Linked DNA regions of Homo sapiens. The protein of the gene in region 3 purifies or fractionates together with the protein of the main gene of each other region. This does not show direct contact. Each region holds a gene or a part of one and is shown on either strand. Other genes may lie near its edges.

Region 1 (3,500 bases), on a different chromosome or scaffold from region 3:
CTTTCTTTCAAGCTAAATGACTCTGGCCCTTTAATCTTTCCTCGTAGGACCTGTTCACCATGCCTTTTATGTTCTTTCCCCTCTTTCTCTCTCTCTCTCTCTCTCTCTCTCTCTCTCTCTTTCTAAGAGAAGGGGTCTCCACTAGGAGCAATGGCTCACACCTGTAATCCCAGCACTTTGGGAGGCTTAAGAGGGCAGATTGCTTAAGCCAAGGAGTTTGAGACCAGCCTGGGCAACATAGAAAGACCCTGTTTTCAAAAATTAGCTGGGCATGGTAGTGCATGCCTGTGGTCCCAGCTATTCAGGAGACTGAGGTGGTGAAGCTTGTGAGCCAAGATTGCACTACTGCACTCCAGCTGGGCAACAAAGCAAGACTCTGTATCAAAAAAAAAAAAAAAAAAAAAAAAAAAAAAAAGCAGGGGTGGTTCTTGCTCTGTCACTCAGGCTGGAGTGTAGTGGCAAGATCACAGCTCACTGCAGCCTCAGACTACTGGGCTCAAGAGATCTTTCTGCCTCAGCCCCACAAGTAGCTGGGACCATAGGCACAAACCACAACACTCAACGAATTTTTGCATTTTCTTGTAGAGGCAGGGTCTCACTATATTTCCCAAGCTGGTTTCAAACTCCTGGACTCACGTGATCCTCCCACCTCAGCCTCCCAAAGTGCTGAGATTACAGGCATGAGCCATCATATGCCTGGCCAATCTTTCTCTTTTTTTTCCTCTGTCTTCTTCCAATAACCACAAGTTAGTATGGTATTCCAAGAAAGGGCTAATCAGAGTGGAGAGGAAGACCTGCTTTCCAGCTGGGTTGTAAAAATCCTTTGGGTCCATTCTGGATCCCATGATGCTGCTGCTATGCTGGTGACAGTGAAGGCAGTGATAACACCACAATCAGGGACATCTCTAATGGTTATATAGGTTGTATGCTGGATGACGGTGTCCAGTTGGTAAGGGATAGGGGCAAGCTGGAACCGAGCCCTGCACCCTGCCCAGAAGGAGGGGCTGCCATTTTCATATTCACACAGACTCTGCCTAGATTAGGGCAACCCTCACAATCATGAATAGAAACCATAGGTGGTGCCAGAGATCTCACCATGGTAGTGGAGGCAGAGTAATGATTGTCACTACCAACATGACACTGCCCGTCATTAGGCTGGACAATGCCTGCCAGCCTTCCGTCCAATGCTATATGAGTCTTGGCATCAGTGGTAAACACCAGCAAGTGGGATGCATCATTCCTCCAGCCAATCTTTTCCTGTTAAAAGAAAACAAAAAACAAAGGCAGAGGAGACAAAACAAATTCAGCCATGTCACTGGTAGAGAACAGAGACCCAAGGTGCTCCCTGGCTAAAGGGCTGGACAGCTTATTTTTCTTCAAAACAAGGGTCTCAGTCCCAGTCCTTGGAACCGAAGCTGAAGCTTTCCAGTTCAGGAGTTTCATTCTCTTCAGAAAACAGTCTCATAGCTGATTAGTTCAAGCAGCTGAATGAGATCTTCTTAAACTCCAAACTTAACTCTTCTAATGACAGTCACATTGCTCATCTAGAAACTGACGTGCATCCACAGAGCTGATCTGGGCTAGAAGAAATCTCATCTGAACATCTGCCTACTTTGCTGAGGTTAAGTTAACTCAGCCTTAACTCTGAAGTAACTCTGAAGATGGGAAGATGCTCTCCCCTGGGAACATCTGAGACCACTGAGGTTCAAAGAAATGTCAGCTCAGGCCAGGGAGTGGATCTAAGCCAAGGCTGAATATCAGGAGCAACTTACTACTCATAACTGCAGGAAGCCCTGCTTAGTTCTCATCTCATTTTACACCAGAAATCCCCAGAGTTCAGTCACTTCCTTTCCCATTTTGATCTATGCCAGCCACACCTGGCACTCCAAGTCCTCCAAACTCACATCACAGACTGTAGCCTGCATGATGGCATCAAAGCCACCCTCTGGGGCATCTCGGTTCCGTGACACACTCTGCTTCTTCACTTCCTCATTGAAGCGGGTCACCTGGTCAGTTAGCGTCAGCACGTGTTTGTAGCCAAACATGGGCAAGCAGGTGGTCTTCATACTGGGGAGGGATGGGAGATAATTTAAGCAGACACCTTCATGGAAAAGGCAGCATGGGAATTGGGAGGAAAGAGAGGGGACAAATATAGATAGTGGTATGCCAAGGCCAGTTCCATACAACCACAGTTACCCAGACAGTTCAGACTCCAAAATCCTCAAATTATCTGAAGCTCCCCATCAACATTACCCCCATCCAGCTAACCTAGAAGATAAGAGATTGAGCTGGAAACAAGACTCCCTGAGCTTAGATCCCAGGTGCCCTCTGTACTAGTCATGGGACCTTTGGCAAGCCTCTCAATCCAACCTATGAAAGAGGGGCCAGGATAGCACATATCCCATAAGAGTTGTGAGACTTAAGTAAGTTCATACACACAAAGCACTTAGACCAGAGCGAGGCTCGAGTTGCTATTACTATCACCTTATACTTAACACTTTCCTAAAGTAACAATAAAGCAAAAGTCCATCAGTAAGTTAAGGTCCCTGAACCATCAATAAATTGATAGATCATGCAAGACAGGAGCATTTCTGCCCCCAGTCAAAATAGTGTGTTTAATTAATAGCTGATGTCTTGCCTGGGAACCTTACAACCCAGATAGAAGGTTGAATGCCACATCATATAACTTCAAAACTTTTTCTTTTTTTTTTAGAGACAGTTGTGCTCCATTGTCCAGGTTGGAGTGCAGTGGCACAATCATGGCTCACTGCAGCCTCAACCTCCCAGGCTCAATCAATCCTCCCACCTCAGCCTCCCTGTAGTCCTGGGGACTGCAGGCATGCGCCATCACACATAGCTAATTTTTTTGTAATTTTTGTAGAGATGGGGGTCTCACTATGTTGCCTAGGCTGAACTCAAACTCCTAGGCTCAAGTGATCCTCCCATCTTGGCCTCCCAAAGTGCTGGGATTACAGAAGTGAGTCACCCCACCTGGCCGTAACTTTGAAAACTAAAAAGTAAATTCACACCTTTTCAGGCTCAGCAACCAGCATTGTAAGTTATTCTAATACATGGATTTGCACAGTCTCCACCGATTAAATAAATAAGCCATTCAGTTTTAAGCCAAAGTGTCAAACAGAGGCACAAGTTATCCATTTACAGACTATAAAAGTGTCCAACAAATGTCATTTCCACTCTTTTATATTCCTTAGCACTTCATTTCTTCTGTTTTCACCCTGCAGGATGCACGGCCTTGATGAAGACAATAATGCCAACAATGGAATCGATCCTTCTGTAATCGTAATTTCTCGGTTTCCTTATCCATAAATTTCTTTCTACTTTTGACGTCATTTCCCTCCCATTCTCTCTTGCCTTCTATTTATTTGTTACCAAGACTGAGAAGCTGATGAATTTTCTTTCTAGGTTCTCCAAACAGCCTTAGGCTCCATTGACACAACACTCCAGATCCACAAGCTAGCCCATTTGCCAAACAGGGAGAC
Region 2 (3,500 bases), on a different chromosome or scaffold from region 3:
AATCTGTCACAGGATTATATGTTATGTGAGCGGCATCACAATGTACTTTGTAGAAAAAAAACGCTAAAGAAGCCTATAGACCATGAAAATAATTTATTTTTATTTATTTTTTGAGATAGAGTCTCACTGTTACCCAGGCTGCAGTGCAGTGGCACCATCTCGCTCACTGCAACCTCTGCCTCCTGGGTTCAAGCAATTATCCTGCCTCAGCCTCCCTAGTAGTTGGGATTACAGGTGTGTAGTAACATGCCCAGCTAATTTTTGTATTTTTAGTAGAAATGAGGTTTCACCACGTTGGCCAGGATGGTCTCGAACTCCTAACCTCAGGTGATCCTCCTGCCTCAGCCTCCCAAAGTGCTGGGATTACAGGCATGAGCCACCACACCCAAAAACTGTTTCTGATACTCTCTCCCTACTTAGAAATATTTACTTAGATGTTCATGGGAGAGAAAAGACAATAACAGATAACACTTCAAATGTTTATTGTGCTAGTCAGATATTCCTGCTTACTTACAATTTTTAATTCTAGCCTTGTTTATTTCTGAAAAAATCAAATCAATTATTTTAGCAATACAGAAATAAAAGTCAATGATAGGAGGTAAAAAGCAGAACTTCTATGCTGCTAGTATCAGTCATTCAATACTAACAGACTTAAAATATACTTTTGTGAAAATAAGGCCTCAAACTCAAACAGTTTTTCAGAACTACATTTTGAGGAAAAATATTTTATAAAGTGATTACCTTGCATTTCACAGCACCCAAAGTAGTAGCGTGACACAGCCATGTTACCAACTACTTCCCATTTATTTTCATCAGGATCAAATCGTTCAATGGTGTTCCCTATCTCAGCTCCAACCCATCCACCTGTAATGAAATAGAAAAATGTTTGTTTCCGGGATAAAAGATTCTTATTTATGACAAAGACCTTAGAAAACATCTAAACCAAATACTTCATATTATAGATATCACATGAGCCAAAGAGGTTATCTGTTCCACGATCCCATGAAAAAGTTAGAATTTGACCATGAGTAGAACTCAGGTCCTTTGCATAACTGATGCTCTTTTGAGAAAAAAAAAAAAAAAAAAAAAAAGGAATTCAAGTCTTTTAACTCCCTATTTTTCACTAAAGACTAAAACAAAACAAAACAACAAAAGCCCCAAAACTTCAATATATTGCATGGAAAAGATGGTATTTTGCAAAACTACCTTTTGAAATTACTTCTGGCTATTTAGAATGTTTATCCTAATCAAGGCCAGCTCCAAACCTAATCAGAGTATACCGTGTATTTGGTGTAATTTCAGGAATTTCAAAAAGGCCCCTTATCCCCACAATAACATTTTCTTAACACTCTCCAATTCTTTTTTTTTTTGAGATGGAGTCTCACTGTGTCACCCAGGCTGGAGTGCAGTGGTGCAATCTCGGCTCAGGCTCAGTGCAAGCTCCACCTCCTGGGTTCATGCCATTCTCCTGCCTCAGCCTCCGGAGTAGCTGAGACTACAGGCGCCCACCACCACGCCCAGCTAATTTTGTTTGTATTTTTAGTAGAGACAGGGTTTCACCATGTTAGCCAAGTTGGTCTCGATCTCCTGACTTCATGATCCGCCCGCCTCAGCCTCCCAAAGTGCTGGGATTACAGGCGTAAGCCACCATGTCCAGCCAACACTCTCCAATTCTTAAAACTGAAAATATTATTTCCCACAATTAACTGAAAAATGCAGATACTTATGGAGGTAATAAAATATAATAGATTAAATTCACCTTAAGGTAACTGATATTTTTTCCACAATAGGTTTGGATGAGGGGAAGACACTGAGTTACAGTGAACTGAAGAAGGAGTGAGAAGGAGAAAATAGGGGAGGCTGAGAGCTACATCAACTTATAACTTTCCCTAGGAACAACCTTGATTGTAACATTTGTTACACAGATAATCAAAGTAGAATACCTTGCTCATAATCATTCACTACATATACAAGAATAAAAATAATATAGTACAGAACTTCCTTGTGATATATTTAATTTTTTGGTATGTGCTTTCTTATATTAGACATAATTAGGCCACTATGCAGGGTGGTAAAAATGTTATATGCTTAATTAAAATAATGAGATTTAACTACTCAGCTAAAGTACTTCACTGGATGTCTCATCTATATTTTATCTCCAGTAATACAATTTTGAGAATAAGAATTTAAAGAGCTGACAAGTGCATCTACAGCATACAGTAGCTCCAGAGATACCTGCAGAAGAATGTGTGTGACTAGCAGCTTGGTCAGCCAGCCAACTGGCCAGGCAGGCATCTACCATCTGCCCAAGAACTGATGCATCTGCCCAACAAGGCTCTGCCCTGCAGGTGCTCAGGTCCTCCTGTACCATCCCCCGCCTGAGTGCCTCCTTAGGATGGACAGCCCAGGAGCACCCCCTCCAATCCCTGACCAGCTGACCCCCACCTACACCTTCCCCTAAGACCTTGCCCAGCCTCCAGAGTATACAGATTAAAGCCAGTTGGTTTTTAAAAAAAGAATGTAAAGAGCTGAAAAGAGGGAAAGAACATCTCCAAAGTCATCAGAACCCAATAATTTAAATAATATTAGCTATCTTTATAAACATTGCATATTCTCACTTCTTTGTGGGATCTAAAAATCAAAACAATTGAACTCATGGAGATAGAGAGTAGAAGGATGGTTACCAGAGGCTGGGAAGGGTAGTGTAGTGGGGGTGGGGAGGGAGGAGGTGGGCATGGTTAATGAATACAAAAAAAAAAAAAAAAGAATGAATAAGACCTAGTATTTGATAGTGCAACAGGGTGACTATAGTCAATAATTTAATTGTACATTTAAAAATAACTAGAAGAGTATAACTGGATTGTTTGTAACATAAAGGATAAATACTTGAGGAGATGGATATCCCATTTTACAAGATGTGATTATTACGCATTATGTGCCTGTATCTCATGTGCCCCATAAATATATATACCTATTATGTATCCACAAAAATGAAAATTAAAAATACATAAACAATATTAGCTATCTTTAAACTGAACAACATAATTACCCAAAGCATAGATAGCCCCATAACACACACACACTCCTAAGCCGCAGCGGGGATGATTCATCGAAGCTACAGTTGTCCACTGTTTAGTAACTGGATCATAGCATTCAGTACAATCAAAAATCATTGAATCCTTTTCACCTGAGTTAAATAAAAGAGACAAATATTATAAAGTTTAGTAATGCCAACAGACTAGCACCATAACACAATATTCAGTAGTATTCCCTATCGTCAAAAATTCAACCATTATGTCTGATTTTATACTATTCATTAACTTTCATTTGCCTGTCAAGCAGTATTTTGAATCTAGAGCACTGTCATTTATTAAAGCCCACTTATGAAACAGAGGCACAATTTTCCTATTATCTATTTCTACCACCCAAACAATCAAACAATCCATGTAATGTTTTAGGATACAATTTGCATTTTAACACTTCTATATTTTTTTTCACAT
Region 3 (3,500 bases):
AGGTTCACGCCATTCTCTTGCCTCAGCCTCCCAAGTAGCTGGGACTACAGGCGCCCACCACCACGCCCGGCTAATTTTTTGTATTTTTAGTAGAGACAGGGTTTCACCGTGTTAGCCAGGATGGTCTCGATCTCCTGACCTCATGGTCCGCCCTCCTTGGCCTCCCAAAGTGCTGGGATTACAGGCGTGAGCCACCGCGCCCGGCGAAAAAATCCTTATAGAGGCTGGGCCCGGTGGCTCACGCCTGTAATCCCAGCACTTTGGGAGGCTGAAGCGGGCAGATCACGAGGTCAGGAGTTTGAGACCAGCCTGGCCAATGTGGTGAAACCCCGTCTCTACTAAAAATACAAAAATAATTAGGCCAGGCGTGGTGGTGCATGCCTGTAATCCCAGCTGCTCGGAAGGCTGAGGCAGGAGAATGGCTTGAACCAGGGGGGCAGAGGTTGCAGTGAGCCGAGATCTTGCCATTGCACTCCAGCCTGGGTGACAGAAGAAGACTCCATCTCAAAAAAAAAAAAAAAAATCCTTACAGAGCTAAAGCACTGCACTCATAAATCAAGACCAGAATATTCTTTTTTTAAAGGAATGTAACTGGGCGCAGTGGCTCACGCGTGTAATCCTAGCACTTTGGGAGGCCGAGGCGGGCGGATCATTTGAGGTCAGGAGTGTGAGACCAGCCTGACCAACATAGTGAAATCCTGTCTTTACTAAAAATACAAAAATTAGTTGGGTGTGGTGGCAGATGCCTATAATCCCAGCTACTCAGGAGGCTGAGGCAGGGGAATCTCTTGAACCCGGGAGGCGGAGGTTGCAGTAAGCCGAGATCGTACCACTGCACTCCAGCCTGAGTGTGACAGAGTGAGACTCCGTCTAAAAAAAAAAAAAAAATCCCAACTTCTCAGGAAGCCGAAGCGGGAGGATAACTTGAGACCCAATCTGGGCAACGTAGCAAAACTCCATCTCTAAACAATTTTTAAAGAATTAGCCAGGCTTGTGGCACATGCCTGTAGCCCCAGCCACTCAGGAAGCTAAGGCAGGAAGATTGCTTGAGCCCAGGAGTTCAAGGTTGCAGTGAGCTATGATCGCACCACTGCACTCTAGTCTGGGTGACAGAGCGAGACCCCATCTCTAAAAATAAAAAAAGAAAGATAAAAATATAAATTTGGTTCTATTAAAATAAAGAGCTGCTGTTTATGAAAAGAAACCATTCAGACAATTAAAAGGCAAAGCACAGAGGGGGAAAATATATTCACAATGTATTTATCTGGCAAAGTGCTCATATCCAGAATATATAAAGAACTCCTACAAATCAATAAGAAAAAGACAAACGACTCAATATGACAATTGTCAAAATGTTTGAACAGAAACCTCACAAAGCAGGATATCCAGATGGCTAATAGCCTTATGAAAAGGGACTCAACTTTATTAGTCATCAGGGAAATGTAAATTAAAGCCACATGGAAAGCAGATCAGTGGTGGTCGGGGTGTGGGAGGAGGAATGACTGCAAATGGGCATCGTGCAATCAGTGCTTGTCTGGGGCAGTGGAAATGTTCTAAAACTGGATTGTGGTGATGGTTGCACAACCATACACATTTGTTAAAAATAAGCTGAGCCGGGCGTGGTGGCTCATGCCTGTAATCCCAGCACTTTGGGAGGCCAAGGCAGGTGGATCACCTGAGGTCAGGAGTTCGAGACCAGCTTGGCCAACATGGTGAAATCCCATCTCTACTCAAAATACAAGAAGAAATTAGCTGGGCATGGTGGCGGTGGGCATCTGTAATCCCAGCTATGTGGGAGGCTGAGGCAGGAGAATCGCGTGAACCCAGGAGGCAGAGGTTGCAGTGGGCCGAGATCACGCCATTGCACTCCAGCCTGGGCAACAAGAATGAAACTCCCTCTCAAAAAAAAAAAAACCCTATAAAAGAACACTCAAAAAACAAGAGCTCTTGGAACTTAAAAATATAGTTACAGAAATTAAAAATTCAATAGATATTTTAGAAGATAAGTTGAAGAGGTCTCCGGAGAGTAGGACACAGAAAGAAAAAGAACCGAAAAATAAGAAAGAAAAGTGTAGGCCAGGCATGGTGGCTCACGCCTGTAATCCCAGCATATTGGGAGGTTGAGGCAGGTGGATCGCCTGAGGGCAGGAGTTTGAGACCAGCCTGACCAACATGGTGAAACCCCATCTCTACTAAAAATACAAAAAATTAGCCAGGCGTGGTGGTGGGCGCCTGTAATCCCAGCTACTAGGGAGGCTGAGGCAGGAGAATCGCTTGAATCCGGGAGGCGGAGGTTGCAGTGAGCCAAGATCACACCATTGCACTCTAGCCTGGGCAACAAGAGCGAGACTCCATCTCAACAACAAAAATAGATAAATAAATACAGTTAGCTGGGCATGGTGGCGCGTGCCTGCAGTCCCAGCTACTTGGGAGGCTGAAGCAGGAGATCGCTTGAATCCGCGAGGTGGAGGTTGCAGTGAGCTGAGATTGTGCCATTGTACTCCAGCCTGGGCAACAAGAGCAAAACTCATCTCAAAAAAAAAAAAAAAAAAGGCAATTATGAACTTCAAAACCATTTGAGCAAAAAGGGAAAAAATAATCATAGTTACTCTGTGGCTTAACTAGGAACACTATTTATATGTGTTACTATTTACAGCCATATCACATTGTTTTAACCAAAGACTACAGACACTACTCACTTAGAAAGAGGCAAGGAAATGTGTGTATTGTGTGGGCAGGGAAGAGAATGTAAGACAGTGAAACCTTCTTACAAAGTCAATAGATAATGTGTGAAATGGCAAAACAAAGAAGTGGAAATATGTCATAGAGAAGAAAACACTAGAATAAAAAGGCACAGCTGGCCCGACGCCGTGGCTCACGCCTGTAATCCCAGCACTTTGGGAGGCCAAAGTGGGCAAATCACCTGAGGTCAGGAGTTCGAGACCAGTCTGACCAACATGGAGAAACCCCGTCCATCTCTACTAAAAATACAAAATTAGCTGGGCATGGTGGCTCAACGCCTGTAATCCCAGCTACTCGGGAGGCTGAGGCAGGAGAACTGCTTGAACCCAGGAGGCGGAGGTTGTGATGACCTGAGATCACGTCATTGCACTCCAGCCTGGGCAACAAGAGCAAGACTCCATCTCAAAAAAAAAAAAAAAAAAATTAGGCCAGGCGCAGTGGCTCGCTCCTATAACCCCAGCACTTTGGGAGGCTGAGGCGGGTGGATCACCTGAGGTCAGGAGTTCGAGACCAGCCTGACCAATATGGTGAAACTCCATCTCTACTAAAAAAATACACTCCTATTACCCCAGCAATTTGGGAGGCTGAGGCGGGTGGATCACCTGAGGTCAGGAGTTCGAGACCAGCCTGACCAATATGGTGAAACTCCATCTCTACTAAAAAAATACACTCCTATAACCCCAGCACTTTGGGAGGCTGAGGCAGGTGGATCACCTGAGGTCAGGAGTTCGAGACCAGCCTGACCAATATGGTGAAAC
Region 4 (3,500 bases), on a different chromosome or scaffold from region 3:
AAAATCGTCCAAAAGAGACCACACTCCTTGCAAATCCTTTCCCACCCCTCCCACAAACAAGGATCTGGGTCCTTTTTCATTTCAGCATCAGAGGGGCTGCAGCCCGCTAGAAAACAGCGTGGAAATCACAGCCACGCCTGCGCCCACCCACGCCACCTCCTCGGGGCACTGCCTGTGCCCCGTGCCACATTCCTGCCAGCCTGCCTCCCCGCCGTTCCCCCATTCCGTCCATTCCCCACTCCCCAAAGCACCACTGAAATCGGCCACCCCTGCCAAGCCCCAGCAAGGGTTCCAAGCTCCTGTGTTTGTGGGACGCCAGGGCTGCTCACCTCTCCAGCCCCCGACCAGGGCTGGCCACAGCCCACAGGCTGCACCGTTGCTCAGCCACTGGGAGCCTGCCTGGGGGTCTCCTCAGGAGCCCCCTCCCCCTCCCTGGGCTAATTTACATCCATCCTAGACATTCAGCCAGGACCACTTCCTCCAGGGAGGCCCAAAACCCCAAGTCTGGGTGGTGAGACCCCCATGGCTCAGTCCCCCCATCTGCCTGTCCCTCAAACTGTCCTGAGTGGGGCCTGAGCCAGGGTCTCACCCACCCCCAGCTCCCAGCCCAGGCGTTGCTGGGGGGAAAGGCGGGGGCAGTGCAGGCCCCCCTGCCACAGCTCCCCTCCCTTCACTGGTGCGTCTTAGTGTTTTGGGGCAACCCATCATCTACACAACTGATGGCTCCGTGTAAAAGATGGATGCCCTGAAGGAAATTCTCGGTTGCTGGTTTAGAGCTTTGAGATTTCTCTCCTGAAGGTTATTTAAAGTCCACAAAGAAACTTAATACTTTCAACCTTCAGTTCAATGTCGCAGCTACCTAGTGATTTCTTTTCTTTTCTTTTTTTTTTTTGAGGCAGAGTCTCGCTTTGTCTCCCAGGCTGGAGTGCAGTGGCGCGATCTCAGCTCACTGCAACCTCTGCTTCCCGGGTTCGAGTGATTCTCCTGCCTCAGCCTCCTGAGTAGCTGGGATTACAGGTGTGTGCCACCACGCCCGGCTAATTTTTGTATTTTTAGTAGAGATGGGGTTTCACCACGTTGGCCAGGCTGGTCTCAAACTCCTGACCTCAGGTGATCTGCCGCTTCAGCCTCCCAAAGTGCTGGGATTACAGGCGTGAGCCACCACGCCTGGCTAATTTTTCTATTTTTAGTAGAGACCGGGTTTCCCCACGTTGGCCAGGCTGGTCTCAAACTCCTGGCCTTAGGTGATCCACCTGCCTCAGCCTCCCAAAGTGCTGGGATTATGTGTCTGGCCTAGTGATTTCTTTAGATCTAGTTGATGAGGTCTCAATATCTTGCTCATTAATCATTAACTCTACATCAAATGCTTAGGAGATATCAGGATCAAGAGACAGGGAAGACAAGCCGCTGGCTGGGAGAAAATATTTGCAAAACACATGACTTGTATCCAAAATATATGAAGAACACTTCCAACTCAACAGTAAGGAAACAAACAAGCAGATTTAAAAATAGGCCAAGGCCGGGCACTGTGGCTCACGCATGTAATCCTAGCACTTTGGGAGGCCAAGGCAGGTGGATCTCCTGAGTCCAGGAGTTTGAGAGCAGCCTGGGTAACATAGCGAGACCCCATCTCTACAAAAAATAGAAAAATTAGCTGGGCATGGTGGTATGTGCCTGTAGTCCCAACTACTCCAGAAGCTGAGGCATGAGGATCACTTGAGCCCCAGGAGATTGAGGCTGCAGTGAGCCAGGATCGTGCCACTGCACTCCAGCCTGGGCTACAGTGAGACCCTATCTCAAAAATAAAATAAAAATAAAAATAAATAAAATACAAATGAGCCAATGACCTTAATAGACACTTCACTGAAGAAGATACACAGATGGCAAATAAGCATCTGAAGAGATGCTCCACTTCATACCTCATCAGGGAAATGCGAATTGAAACAGCAACAAGACACCACAATACACCTAACAGAATTCCAAAATCCAGAACACTGACACCACCAAATACTGGTGAGGATGCAGAGCAGCCAGGACTCTCGTTCGCCACCGGTGAATAAATGTGGCACAGCCACTTTGGAAGAGAGTTTGGCAGTTTCTTCCAAAACGAGACACACTCTTACCATACGATCCAGCAATTGAGCTCAAATGAATTAAAACCTTATCTCCACACAAAAACCTACACGTAGATGTACACAGCAGCTTTATTCATAACTGCCAAAACTTGGAAGCAACCAAGATGTCCTTCAGCAGGTGAATGGATCAACAAACTGGCACATCCAGACAACGGAATATTATTCAGTCAAAAAAGGAATGAGCTACCAAGCCCTGAGAAGACATGGAAGGGCCTTCAATGTATATCATTGAGTGGAAGAAGCCAATCTGAAAACGCTACTGTACACTTTATGATCACAACTAGATGATAGTCTGGAAAAGGCAAAAACACAGATACAGTAAAAAAAACAAAAACAAAAACCAAAAAAACAAAACAAAAAAATGATCCGTGGTTGCCAGGGATTTGGGGAAACGGAGGGATGCATAGGCAGCAGAAAGAGGATTCTGGGGTCAGTGACGCTGCTCCAGAGGTGACTGTAATGGTGGGTCCATGTCACTCTACATCCATCCAGAGCCACAGAATGTCCAACGGCAAGAGCAACCCCTAATGTAAACTATGAGCTTGCGGAGATAATGATGTCTCAGCGTTGGCTCACGACTCTACCACACAGCCGGGGGGCACTGATGGAGGTGAGAAGGGATAGGTGGGGACACTTTGTATTCTTTGCTAGATTTCGCTGTAAACCTAAAACTGCTTTAAAAATATACGTCAATATATATATGTGAATATATATACACACACATGAATATATATATATATATATATATATATGGTTTTTTTTTCTATTTGATATGGAGTCTCACTCTGTTGACCAGCCTGCAGCGCAGTGAGGCAATCTCAGCTCACTGCAACCTCCACCTCCCAGGTTCAAGCGATTCTCCTGCCTCAGCTTCCCAAGTAGCTGGGATTACAGGCACACGCCACCATGCCCGGCTAATTTTTGCGTTTTTACTGGAGATGGGGTTTCACCATGTTGACCAGGCTGGTCTCGAATTCCCGACCTCAGGTGATCCACCCACCTCGGCCTCCCAGAGTGCTGGGATTACAGGCGTGAGCCACCTCACCTGGCCCACACATACATATTTTTTAAGGTAATCAGGGGATAGAAACTTCCTGAATGTGTTGCTCAGAAAAGAGGGACAGAACCTCCAGACTGGCTGCTCTCGCCCCGCTGCCTTCAGCTGTCTCTGAGAAACCTGACCCTGGCCACTGGGCAGTGGCGCCTGAGGTCCAGTGCCTGGTGCAGCACAGAACAGGCCTCTTGTGGCAAATGTGTGGAGCACTCCACCCGACCTCTTCCACACTGGCCAGGGCCGGCCATCCGCCTCTGAGGACTTCCAGCAGCAGCTGGGCTGTCCCCGACCTCCATCCTGGCCCACTGGAC
Region 5 (2,784 bases), on a different chromosome or scaffold from region 3:
AGATAGAGAAAAGGGGCTGAGCCTTGGAATATATGGTTATAAGCAGATCTTTCTTTGGTCAGAGACCAGGGTTTGAGCCAAGGCTGTAAATGTGAACAATAGCTGTGCAAAGCCTTTTAACCTGACTTCTTCATTTTGTAAATTATTATGCATTAAGTAGCAGCCCAATAATCTGATTTCTAGTTTTATTTTCAAAGTAAGTAGCTTCTTTTGGGAAAAACCTAAGTTAAACTAGTAGTTTTGCCATAATAACTGCTGATTTATGTATTTGCTAAAGGTACTTTTGTATCTGCTGTGTATTATAGCAATAAAATAATCATTTTGTTAGAAAAAAATCACCTGGTGTTCTTTTGTAATACACTGATCTGTTACAAACATCATCTTTCTGAATTCTGCATTGTTACATAACAAGCCCTACGCTTTAAACCTTTCTGTGTTCCCTGTTGGTAAGGGAAATGCCAGCTCCCTCTTAGAGTCGAGAGGGAAAGAGAAAAGAGAAAAACTGTTAAAAATGTTTTTATTTTTTAGTAAGCAAAATTTTACGAAAAGTCAGATTCACCCGTGGAGCCAGAACCTTCTTTCTCACGGGAAGACTGTGGTACCAGTGCGTGTTGGTCGGGTGGTTCATCATTAGTAAGCTCCCGTGGGCCAGCGGCAGCCTGACCACCGCCACCCTCCTGGAGGGGCTTTTCCCACGGGAATCCTTATGCCGGAAGACAAAGTCTCTGCAGGCACCGAAGGAGACAGAGGCAATGGGGCTCCCAGGGGCCAGTTCTCTTTCATCATCTCGGTGCTCCCCGATGTGGTCACAGCCATCTTTATACCTGCAATGAGAAAACAAACACAGTGCATAAAAACAACCCTCTCCTGAAACTCACCAGCACCGCCAGCCCTCGTTTTCCTCACAGTGTGAAACAGCACTCTGCATGGCTGTACCTGCCGTTGTTTCTGCGAGGGCTTGAGGTCCACAGTGGGCTCTAAGATAAGCCAACGCTGAAGAGGTCTGTTGACGTATTTGTTCATGTGACTTATTTATTATTATTTTTGAGAGGGTCTCGCTCTGTCACCCAGGCTGAAGTGCAGTGGCACAATCATAGCTCACTGCAGCCTCGGCCTCCTGGGCTCAAGTGATTCTCCCACTTCAGCCTCCCAAGTAGCTGGGACTATAGGTATGCACCACCCCACCTAGCTAATTTCTTTTCTTTTGCAGAAACAGTTTCACCATGTTACCCAGGCTGGTCTCAAACTCGGGCTCAAGCAATTCACTCTCCTTGGCCTCCCAAAGTGTTGGGATTACAGGCATGAGTCACCACGTCCGGCCAGTTCATGTGCTTTAAAACTGAAGACACCCAAAGCCAAAATCACGTCTTACTGTAGTTCCCCTGGCCAGTCTATGTAAACCTTTATCACATGATTTTGCCCTGCACTCAAAGGCCATACTCTGCATAGCCCGGCCCCTGCCCACTGCTGAGCTCATGCCATCCCCTTCTTTCCCTCATTCACTGCTTTCCGGCCATCCTGCAGCATTTTTGCTTCACAGACACTCCAGAGTCCCTCTGCTCTCCCTCCAGATGTCTGTGGCTGGCACTCTCCATTTAGTTATCAGCTCAAACGCACTGCCTCAGCCCTCCTCTAACCACCCCATCTGAAGTGACCTTCCCTTAAACCCACCCAGGGTTCTCCACCAGGGTGATTCTGCCCCAGGGGACAGGTATTGGGGGGTGGGGGACACTACTTGCAATCTAGTGGATGGAGGCCAGGGATCTGCTCAACATCCTGCAAGGCACAGGTCAGCCCCAACAACAACGAATGACTGGGCCCAAAATGTCTGCAGTGCTGCCGTTGAGAAACCTTGCCCTAATCGCAAACCTCTCAGCCATTCTCAGTCAAATCGGCCTGTTTAATTTTTTGCAAGATGGTTATCACTGTCTGAAATCGTCTAGGGTCAGGCATAGTCGTTCACGCCTGTAATCCCAGCACTTTGGGAGGCTGAGGTGGGAGGATCGCTTGAGCCTAGCAGTTTGAGACCAAGCCTGGGCAACATAGAAAAACCCTGTCTCAAAAAAAAAAAAGAAAGAAAAAGAGAAGAAGAAATTATCTCATTCAGCTGTTTGTTCAGGAGTTAATCACCTCTCACTTCCTACTCCGGGATGAGCTCCAGGATCCAGGAAGACCGAGTGCTGGCGCTATTCCACTCTTAGAGCCCCAGTGTACTAAGAAATGATTTGTACCAATGAACCAAATAGGGTGGAACCCTAAACACTTCCTTTTGGAGGAGACAGAAGACTTGTAACATTGAGTCCACTAAACAGGGTGTCACCTGTTGATGAGCACAAAGTTGAAGGTCTGTCCAGTCACCCCAGAGACGTGATCCCGGATGCGCTCTAGAACTGGGATCCAGGGCTTTGGAGACAGCGTGAGGCCTGAAAATGTGTAGGTCAGCCCAGCGTCGCCATACGTTGCCTGCTTCCTGGGCACACTGTGCCACTTCCCGAATACCTGGACTCTGGCCAGTGCTCCTGTGCAGAGGAAACATGGCAGTTCCTTTCTACCTGACCCCCATCTAGAAATCCAGATGCCCCCCCCAACCCGCACTGCCATCACCAGAAATCCAGTGCCCCACATACATGCTCCCTGGGTATTCAAGATTGAAAGGGAAGTAAGGAATAACATTTCCCCGTCATTCCATGCAATTTAAACCCCTCTTCAATCATCATTTTGGCTTGCCCCAAATTTTCTTTTTGTTTTGTTTTCTTTGAGACAGGGTCTCCCTGTGTCACCCAG
Region 6 (3,500 bases), on a different chromosome or scaffold from region 3:
TATGTAAAACAAAAATTTGAATATAATTTGAATATATCAGTCTAAATGTAGCTAGTGGAATATTTATCATTGTTTTTCTTTATGGGTTGGTCCCATTAACAAAAGGAACATGTTCTTTCATTGTGGAATAAATGAACATTTGGATCAAGTGTGGGTCTGGCGCTCTCCACTGTGAATTTACTTCGGGGAACAGCTTGGCTACACAGGTGCTCTAGGCAAATTTGTTGATTCCTTTAGATCAAGCATAGCTTCTCACTTTAGCCATTTCTTTTTACCTCTTCTGATCTATGAGTTCTTAGCTTTAATTGGTGGATTTAAAGAGATGCAAAAAAAAGGCACCCCCAAATCTATTCCAGCAGGAGGAATGGTCAAAGCCTCTTTTGGGTTCTTGGCCTAGACAGCTGGAAAAGACCAGGATGGAAAGTGAACATTTCTGCCATTGCTGATCCTACTCTGAATCTGTTGATTCCTGCAGTTACAGCAGGTGCTGGACACTGTTTTTCATGCTGTGCAACAATAAAAAGGAATGGTTAGGCTGGAGAAGGGGCCCAAGGGAAACATGTATGGGAAAAAGGAGAGCCAACTGAGAAATAAAGACATTAGGGATCCAGGTTAGAAGACTAGGACCAGGCTGCTCTGTTACCTCCTTAGTGGCTGCTAGAGTCTAGTTGTCATCAACCCACATCCACTTTTAGGTGGGGAGGTAAGGAAAGAAGCAGGGATCAGATGAGGGCTTTGTATACCCTTAGGGGTCATATGAGGATGTCTGCTCTGCCTCCAGGTGTCGCATGCAACTGGGCTGGCTGAAACACTTGCAGTGAGAACTCACTGTGTGTTCAAGTTCAACAATTTTGGGAAGGCAATAGCAGGGGAGAAGACATGGGGAGGAAAGAGGATGGTAAACAACAAGGCAAAAAAGATGGGGTTTAAAAATTAGTAGACAGCTGGAAAGTTAACAAGCATGATTGGGGCTGGGTGTGGTGGCTGACACCTATAATCCCTACACATTGGGAGACTGAGGAGGGAGGATTGCTTGAGGCCAGGAGCTTGACACCAGCCAGGGCAACATAGTGAGGCCCAGCCTCTACAAAAAACAAACAAACAAAAAAATTAGCTGGGCATGGTGGCATGTGCCTGCAGTCTTAGCTACTCCAGGAGGCTGAGTCAGGAAAATCGCTTGAGCCCAGGGGATTGAGACTATAGTGAGCTATGATTTTGCCATATTGTACTCCAGCCTGGGTGACAGAGTGAGACCTTGTCTCTATTAATTAAGAACAACAACAAAAAAAGCATGATTGGGTGGTAATAGTGGTAACAAAATGCAAAGAAAATCCCACATGACTTGCAACTACCAAAATGAAGTGATAAGTTGGTCCAGACAACTAGAAAATGTGTTGCCTAGACTACATGCAAATTAAGTCTCAGACACCCCCTTGCAAACAATTCTTTAGCTCTAGTGAGAAAATCAACTTACTCTTAAAGAAAAAAGTGTTTACATGATCATTACTAAGGGCAATAAAATTTATATAGATATAAGGTAACTGCTGTTGAAAAGTGTGATTTCAGACCTGCTGACACAGAAATTCACCTAAGCGGATGAACTCCCATTAGCATTTAGTCCAGAGCTTCTCAAACTTTTCCACCAAAGCATCCCCAACAGCAAAAGAATAAATATATAATCTGAGGACTTGGGGTGCAGCCTGAAGTTGCTTGCCACATGCACAAGATTTCCCATTTTAGCTTGAAAAATTCATATGTTATATTTGTGTTTAATACAAACATGTTTTAAATGACTCTGAAATTTCTCCTGAATTGCTGAGCAAAAGTGCCAAAGTTGTATTATGTTTCTCTGTGGGCGTTGGGAACCGTGACCCATTGCTGTGTACCTGTAGAGCTTCCTGTATTGCAGTAGAAGCAGCACAGTGTCCTCCTAACTTATTTGATTATCTTGCTACTTTTCAGCTCTAAAGAAAGCACTGGGGTTTTGGGGTCCTGGCACAGATAGTTAGCCTCACTGGTTACCACCATGCAGGACTCCTATTGCCTCTCTGAATCCTGGGACATGCTGGTGGACTGATGTGAATACAGTGGTAATGAGAAAGGAGCTGAAGAGTTTTTATAAATATACATGCAATATATATTTTTTGCTATCAAGTTAGAGAACCCTAACTTAACAGAATGGATATGTTTCTATACAATAACTTTCTTTAAGCAGGAATAGCTGTATTCTATCTAGTAAAAGAAAAGAAATGTAGTTTTAGAGAATAATTCCAGTGATGATGGTAATAACCTTTGGTTAGAATGGGCAAATCCCATTTTATGCAGGTGTGGGTATAGCACCCTGCCCTCTAGAGCTTTTTATAGCATATTTTAGCCCTAGTATTTTTAGGAACTCATAACCCCTCAGGGACCAAAACATTCCATTCAACTCTCTTACATTCCCCTTAGACTCTTCTCCTCATGCCAAACTTGTTGTTTCCAGAAGAATTACTCTACTGTATCCAGGAACTCATCAGAATTCATCAATGGGAGCTAACTCATAGAAACAAACATATTTAACATTGTATCTCAAATAGAATAAAATGATTTTACTATTTTATCCATTCTATAAAAATTGTACACATTTATTTCTAATAAGAAATACCTATAACAGATATTCAACTAGGAGTGTATTTCTTTTTTTTTCCTTTTTTTTTTTTTTGTTTTGAGACGGAGTCTCGCTCTGTCGCCCAGGCTGGAGTGCAGTGGTGCGATCTCGGCTCACTGCAAGCTCTGCCTCCTGGGCTCAAGTGATTCTCCTGCCTCAGCCTCCCGAGTTGCTGAGATTACAGGCGCCCGCCACCACGCCCGGCTAATTTTTGTATTTTTAGTAGAGACGGGGTTTCGCCATGTTAGGCAGGCTGGTCTTGAACTCCTGACCTCAGGTGATCCACCCGCCTCGGCCTCCCAAAATGCTGGGATTACAGGCATGAGCCACTGTGCCCGGCCGGAAGGTATTTCTTTGCAGAGATCTTGATGCGTTTGGCTTACCTGAACCAGTGTTTGTCCTTCAGCTCTTGAATTCCTCACCACATGGTTGTTAGTTGATCCTATGAATGAATGCTGCTGTCTGTTGTCTGCCTTGCTCACGTTCTGGCTGTTGTGGAAACTCCCTGCTTCCTGGTATCCACTGTCGGAATAAGAATTCATTTGTGTTGAACTTCTTGAGTTACCCAATGATCCTGTAAGAATGAAACCAAGAAATATCTTTATTATACACACTTCTGACACTCGCTTTCAAGAATAAAATCTTAAAAGCAAATCCAGTACTTAAAAGATAACACAACAGACCCTCACTTTCATGGAGAGATGTCTGTTCTGGTGAATAGAGGGTTCCTTGTTCTGGCTCTGTCCTGATGAGATAGTTGTTGGGCTGGACAGCGTCAGAAACTCTAGGTTTGCTTACACCAGTATTTGGCACGTCTGTAACAAGAAAAGTTTAATCAGCTAAATATAATAAC
Region 7 (3,500 bases), on a different chromosome or scaffold from region 3:
TGCCTCTGAACACACCCAACCCCGGAGGAGCCAGCAGAGGAAAAAGAGGACAAAGGTGGGGAAGGGAGCAGGTGGTGCCCACCAAGTAAGGAACCCTGAGGCTTAGGCGGAACCTGAGCTGGAGAAGGGACTCATCTAGGAACTGGGTATGAGATTAAAGTTTAGATTTGTCTGGCCTGGATTTTGTTAACACCTAAACAAGGGTTATTCTATTCTTTTTTTTTTTTTTTTTTGAGATGGAGTCTCACTGCCCCCCAGGCTGGAGTGCAGTGGCGCTATCTCAGCTCACTGCAACCTCTGCCTCCCAGGTTCAAGTGATTCTCACGCCTCAGCCTCCCGAGTAGCTGGGATTATAGGCGCGCACCACCATTCCCGGCTAATTTTGTATTTTTAGTAGAGATAGGGTTTCACCATGTTGGCCCCCTGGCTCACGCCCGTAATCCCAGCACTTTGGGAGGCTGAGGTGGGCAGATCAAGAGGTCAGGAGATCAAGACCATCCTAGCTAACATGGTGAAACCCTGTCTGTACTAAAAATACAAAAAATTGCTGGGCGTGGTGGCTCACGCCTGTAATCCCAGCACTTTGGGAGGCTGAGGCGGGTGGATCATGAGGTCATAAGATCGAGACCATCCTGGCTGACACGGTGAAACCCCGTCTCTACTAAAAAGACAAAAAATTAGCCAGGCATGGTGGCGGGTGCCTGTAGTCCCAGCTACTCGGGAGGCTGAGGCAGGAGAATGGCATGAACCCAGGAGGCGGAGCTTGCAGTGAGCCAAGATAGTGCCACCGCACTCCAGCCTAGGCGACAGAGACTCTGCCTCAAAAAAAAAAAAAAAAAAAAAATACAAAAAATTAGCTGGGCGTGGTGGTGGGCACCTGTAGTCCCAGCTACTCAGGAGGCTGAGGCAGGAGAATCGCTTGAACCCCAGATGCGGAGGTTGTAGTGAGCCAAGAGCGTGCCACTGCACTCCAGCCTGGGCGATAGAGCAAGCCTCTGTCTCAAAAACACACATAAAAAAACCTTCAAACGAATGTAAGAATTATTATTTTTTAAAGTACAGCTTTAAAAATGCCCCTTACAAATACATCAGTGTTATATTAAGGCAAACCTACTTCAGAAGCACAAAGTTAATTTCTTATAATTCCAAGAAATATGTGAATGTTAAAAAAACCCCAAACACCCGAAAAGGGATCAAACTCAAGATAGTTTGGAACATTTTATTGCAAAAAGAAGGGCAGAGAACAGTCTTCTTCTTCATACCTGTTCACCACAGACCTCCCTGAGAGCAGTAATTTTTAGCAGCTCTCCTGTGCAAACAAGTCTCATGAAGGAATCAGTGTATGGGCCACAAATACCTTCTCAGTGTGGTTTCACCTAGAATACAAGCACTCAGAAGCACAAATTTAACTGAAGTGAGAAACCAGGCCATTTTGTAGCTTCAGTTTTTCTACCAGTAATATATTAATTTCTTGAAATAGCCTAATAATTTAGTTCTACTATCAAAACAGAAGCCCAATCTGGGAGCACAATTATTATAGAAATCAAACTAATTTCAATCATATTAGTATAGGAATTCATATTAGTATAGGCTGAGGCAGGAGGATCACTTGAGCCTAGGAGTTTGAGACCAGCCTGAGCAAGACAGTGAGACTCCATCTCTAATTTTTTTCTTAAAATAAAGAAATTCAGAGAGAAGAAGGAAGAGGATATGTGTTTATCCAAGGACAAATTTTGTGTGCCTGTACATACAACACAACTATGAACCTTCCTTCACGCAGCTCACAACCTAGTAGTGAGAGGGAACTATGAAAACGTGAGCCCCCACGATGAGGAAAAAGGTGCATATCAGAGAAAAGAAAAATGCTGCGATGATCCAATGGCAGGAGCAGCGCGCATCCACTTTCTTTGTTTTTTTGAGATGGGGTTTCGCTCTGTCTCCCAGGCTGGAGTGCCGTGGCTTGATCTCAGCTCAATGCAGCCTCAACCTCCCAGGCTCAAGTGATCTTCCCATCTCAGCCTCCCAAGTAGCTGGGAATACAGGCGTGCACCACTACACTCATTTACTTTTTGTAGAAACAGGGTCTCACAATGTTGCCAAGGCTGGCATCCTGAAGGGCGGGTGGGGCTTCATCCTACAGAGATGAAAGGCAGAAGAAGCTTAGAGCCCAAAGCAAAGGGGTGGAGGACAAGGGCATCTTCAGAACAGAGTGGCTCGGCTGAGACATCCAGTAGGATGCCACCAGGCAGAGGTGTGGTGGAAAAACACAGGGCCACGGTGAATGCTCACATGTGAGGAGCAAACCACCACAGAACACAACAGAAACACGGTGTACTAAATCAGGCTTCAAATCGCAGCCCTGCAACTTGAGAGCTACCACAGGTAACCCGGAAAGGGAGCACCGACAGCAATGCCCACTGCCTGAGGCTGTGAGATGGACCAGAAACCTGTGCTTACTAACAACCTGCCTTATTCCAGAAGGAATTCAGGAAACACAGAGACACTCACGGTACAGCAAAATAAAGTAAATGTGAATCATATTGGTTGAGAAGAAAGTGAAGAGTCTAAGACTATGTCATAAAGTTTACTTCTACTCTAAACTCTCATTACTGGTGAGCCACCAACCTGACTTTAAATTTTCTAGCAGCTAAATTGAAGAGGAAAATGTCATCAGGTAAACGTTTATAAGATGCAAACAAAACAGAACGGCCACCACAGTTTCTGAGAACACGCGCAGCTCCAGGAGAAATGGGGTGGCCATTTCCTGGGGCTGCCCCGCAGCAGGTGTGTGAGCCCGAAAGCCAGCGTCTCTCAGGGTGAACAGTGACTACGGGCTTCATGGGGCCACATGCCCCCAGCACAAGCTGAGGAAATCTCCCAGGGCAATTCAGGCAACAGGGTCTCACAGTGTCGCCCAGGCTGGTCTCAAACTCCTGGGCTCAAGGGATCCCCCTGCCTCGGCCTCCCAAAGTGTTGGGAGGTCAGGCGTGAGCCACTGCACCTGGCCCTGCACTCACATTAGAGAAGAGGGCTTTGCATCCTGAAGGGCGGTGGGGCTTCATCCCACAGAGATGAAAGGCAGAGGAAGCTCAGAGCCCAAGGTAAAGGGGGGCGCCTAAGAAAAGTGACTCCATTGGGACCACGGTGAGAGGGTCCCGATACACAGCTTGGGTTAAGCCACTGATTTCAAAGTATCTCAGGAATGGTGGACTCAGCACCCATCAGGCAATTCTCTCAAGCAGTCTCCTGGTAGATATTTAGTAGCAGCTGAAATCAAGATTATGTTCTGATAGACACTTGCTGATGGTTAAAGAGCTATATACACTTTGAGGACCAGCTGAACTGGGGCAGGACTAACTCCCTCTGGTGAAAATACAGGAACCCAAACACACAAGTCAGAGCAGGAGGTGTCTCCCCCACCCCCAAACAATAATGCTGACCTTGGATTTGGGTTAAGTGCCTAGCCCAGCGTGTGAGTGTTGAGTAAGTGGAAACCATCA

What was found.
Region 1: the proteins of FERMT3 (region 3) and ITGB3 purify together in Homo sapiens (affinity purification with western blotting, with the first as the bait; one study listed by BioGRID). This does not show direct contact.
Region 2: the proteins of FERMT3 (region 3) and IPP purify together in Homo sapiens (affinity purification with mass spectrometry; 2 studies listed by BioGRID and IntAct, with this or other methods). This does not show direct contact.
Region 4: the proteins of FERMT3 (region 3) and PARVB fractionate together in Homo sapiens (co-fractionation; one large-scale study listed by BioGRID). This does not show direct contact.
Region 5: the proteins of FERMT3 (region 3) and ALKBH2 purify together in Homo sapiens (affinity purification with mass spectrometry; one large-scale study listed by BioGRID and IntAct). This does not show direct contact.
Region 6: the proteins of FERMT3 (region 3) and PKP4 purify together in Homo sapiens (affinity purification with mass spectrometry; one large-scale study listed by BioGRID and IntAct). This does not show direct contact.
Region 7: the proteins of FERMT3 (region 3) and PDCD6 purify together in Homo sapiens (affinity purification with mass spectrometry; one large-scale study listed by BioGRID and IntAct). This does not show direct contact.

What each region holds. Positions count from the first base shown.
Region 1 is NC_000017.11:47,284,827-47,288,326, reverse strand, and holds part of ITGB3 (integrin beta-3 precursor), read right to left. Parts: intron 2,068-3,500; coding exon 1,905-2,067; intron 1,258-1,904; coding exon 1,096-1,257; intron 1-1,095. UniProt on the Homo sapiens protein: Integrin alpha-V/beta-3 (ITGAV:ITGB3) is a receptor for cytotactin, fibronectin, laminin, matrix metalloproteinase-2, osteopontin, osteomodulin, prothrombin, thrombospondin, vitronectin and von Willebrand factor.
Region 2 is NC_000001.11:45,716,154-45,719,653, forward strand, and holds part of IPP (actin-binding protein IPP), read right to left. Parts: intron 3,188-3,500; coding exon 3,050-3,187; intron 865-3,049; coding exon 742-864; intron 1-741. UniProt on the Homo sapiens protein: May play a role in organizing the actin cytoskeleton.
Region 3 is NC_000011.10:64,213,221-64,216,720, reverse strand, and holds part of FERMT3 (fermitin family homolog 3 short isoform), read right to left. Parts: intron 1-3,500. UniProt on the Homo sapiens protein: Plays a central role in cell adhesion in hematopoietic cells. Acts by activating the integrin beta-1-3 (ITGB1, ITGB2 and ITGB3). Required for integrin-mediated platelet adhesion and leukocyte adhesion to endothelial cells.
Region 4 is NC_000022.11:44,027,302-44,030,801, reverse strand, and holds part of PARVB (beta-parvin), read right to left. Parts: intron 1-3,500. UniProt on the Homo sapiens protein: Adapter protein that plays a role in integrin signaling via ILK and in activation of the GTPases CDC42 and RAC1 by guanine exchange factors, such as ARHGEF6. Is involved in the reorganization of the actin cytoskeleton and formation of lamellipodia.
Region 5 is NC_000012.12:109,087,689-109,090,472, forward strand, and holds the end of ALKBH2 (DNA oxidative demethylase ALKBH2), read right to left. Parts: intron 2,520-2,784; coding exon 2,321-2,519; intron 825-2,320; coding exon 518-824; 3' UTR 501-517; downstream 1-500. UniProt on the Homo sapiens protein: Dioxygenase that repairs alkylated nucleic acid bases by direct reversal oxidative dealkylation. Can process both double-stranded (ds) and single-stranded (ss) DNA substrates, with a strong preference for dsDNA.
Region 6 is NC_000002.12:158,620,952-158,624,451, reverse strand, and holds part of PKP4 (plakophilin-4), read right to left. Parts: intron 3,463-3,500; coding exon 3,331-3,462; intron 3,222-3,330; coding exon 3,031-3,221; intron 1-3,030. UniProt on the Homo sapiens protein: Plays a role as a regulator of Rho activity during cytokinesis. May play a role in junctional plaques.
Region 7 is NC_000005.10:274,646-278,145, reverse strand, and holds part of PDCD6 (programmed cell death protein 6), read right to left. Parts: intron 2,135-3,500; exon of another isoform or gene 1,206-2,134; intron 1-1,205. UniProt on the Homo sapiens protein: Calcium sensor that plays a key role in processes such as endoplasmic reticulum (ER)-Golgi vesicular transport, endosomal biogenesis or membrane repair.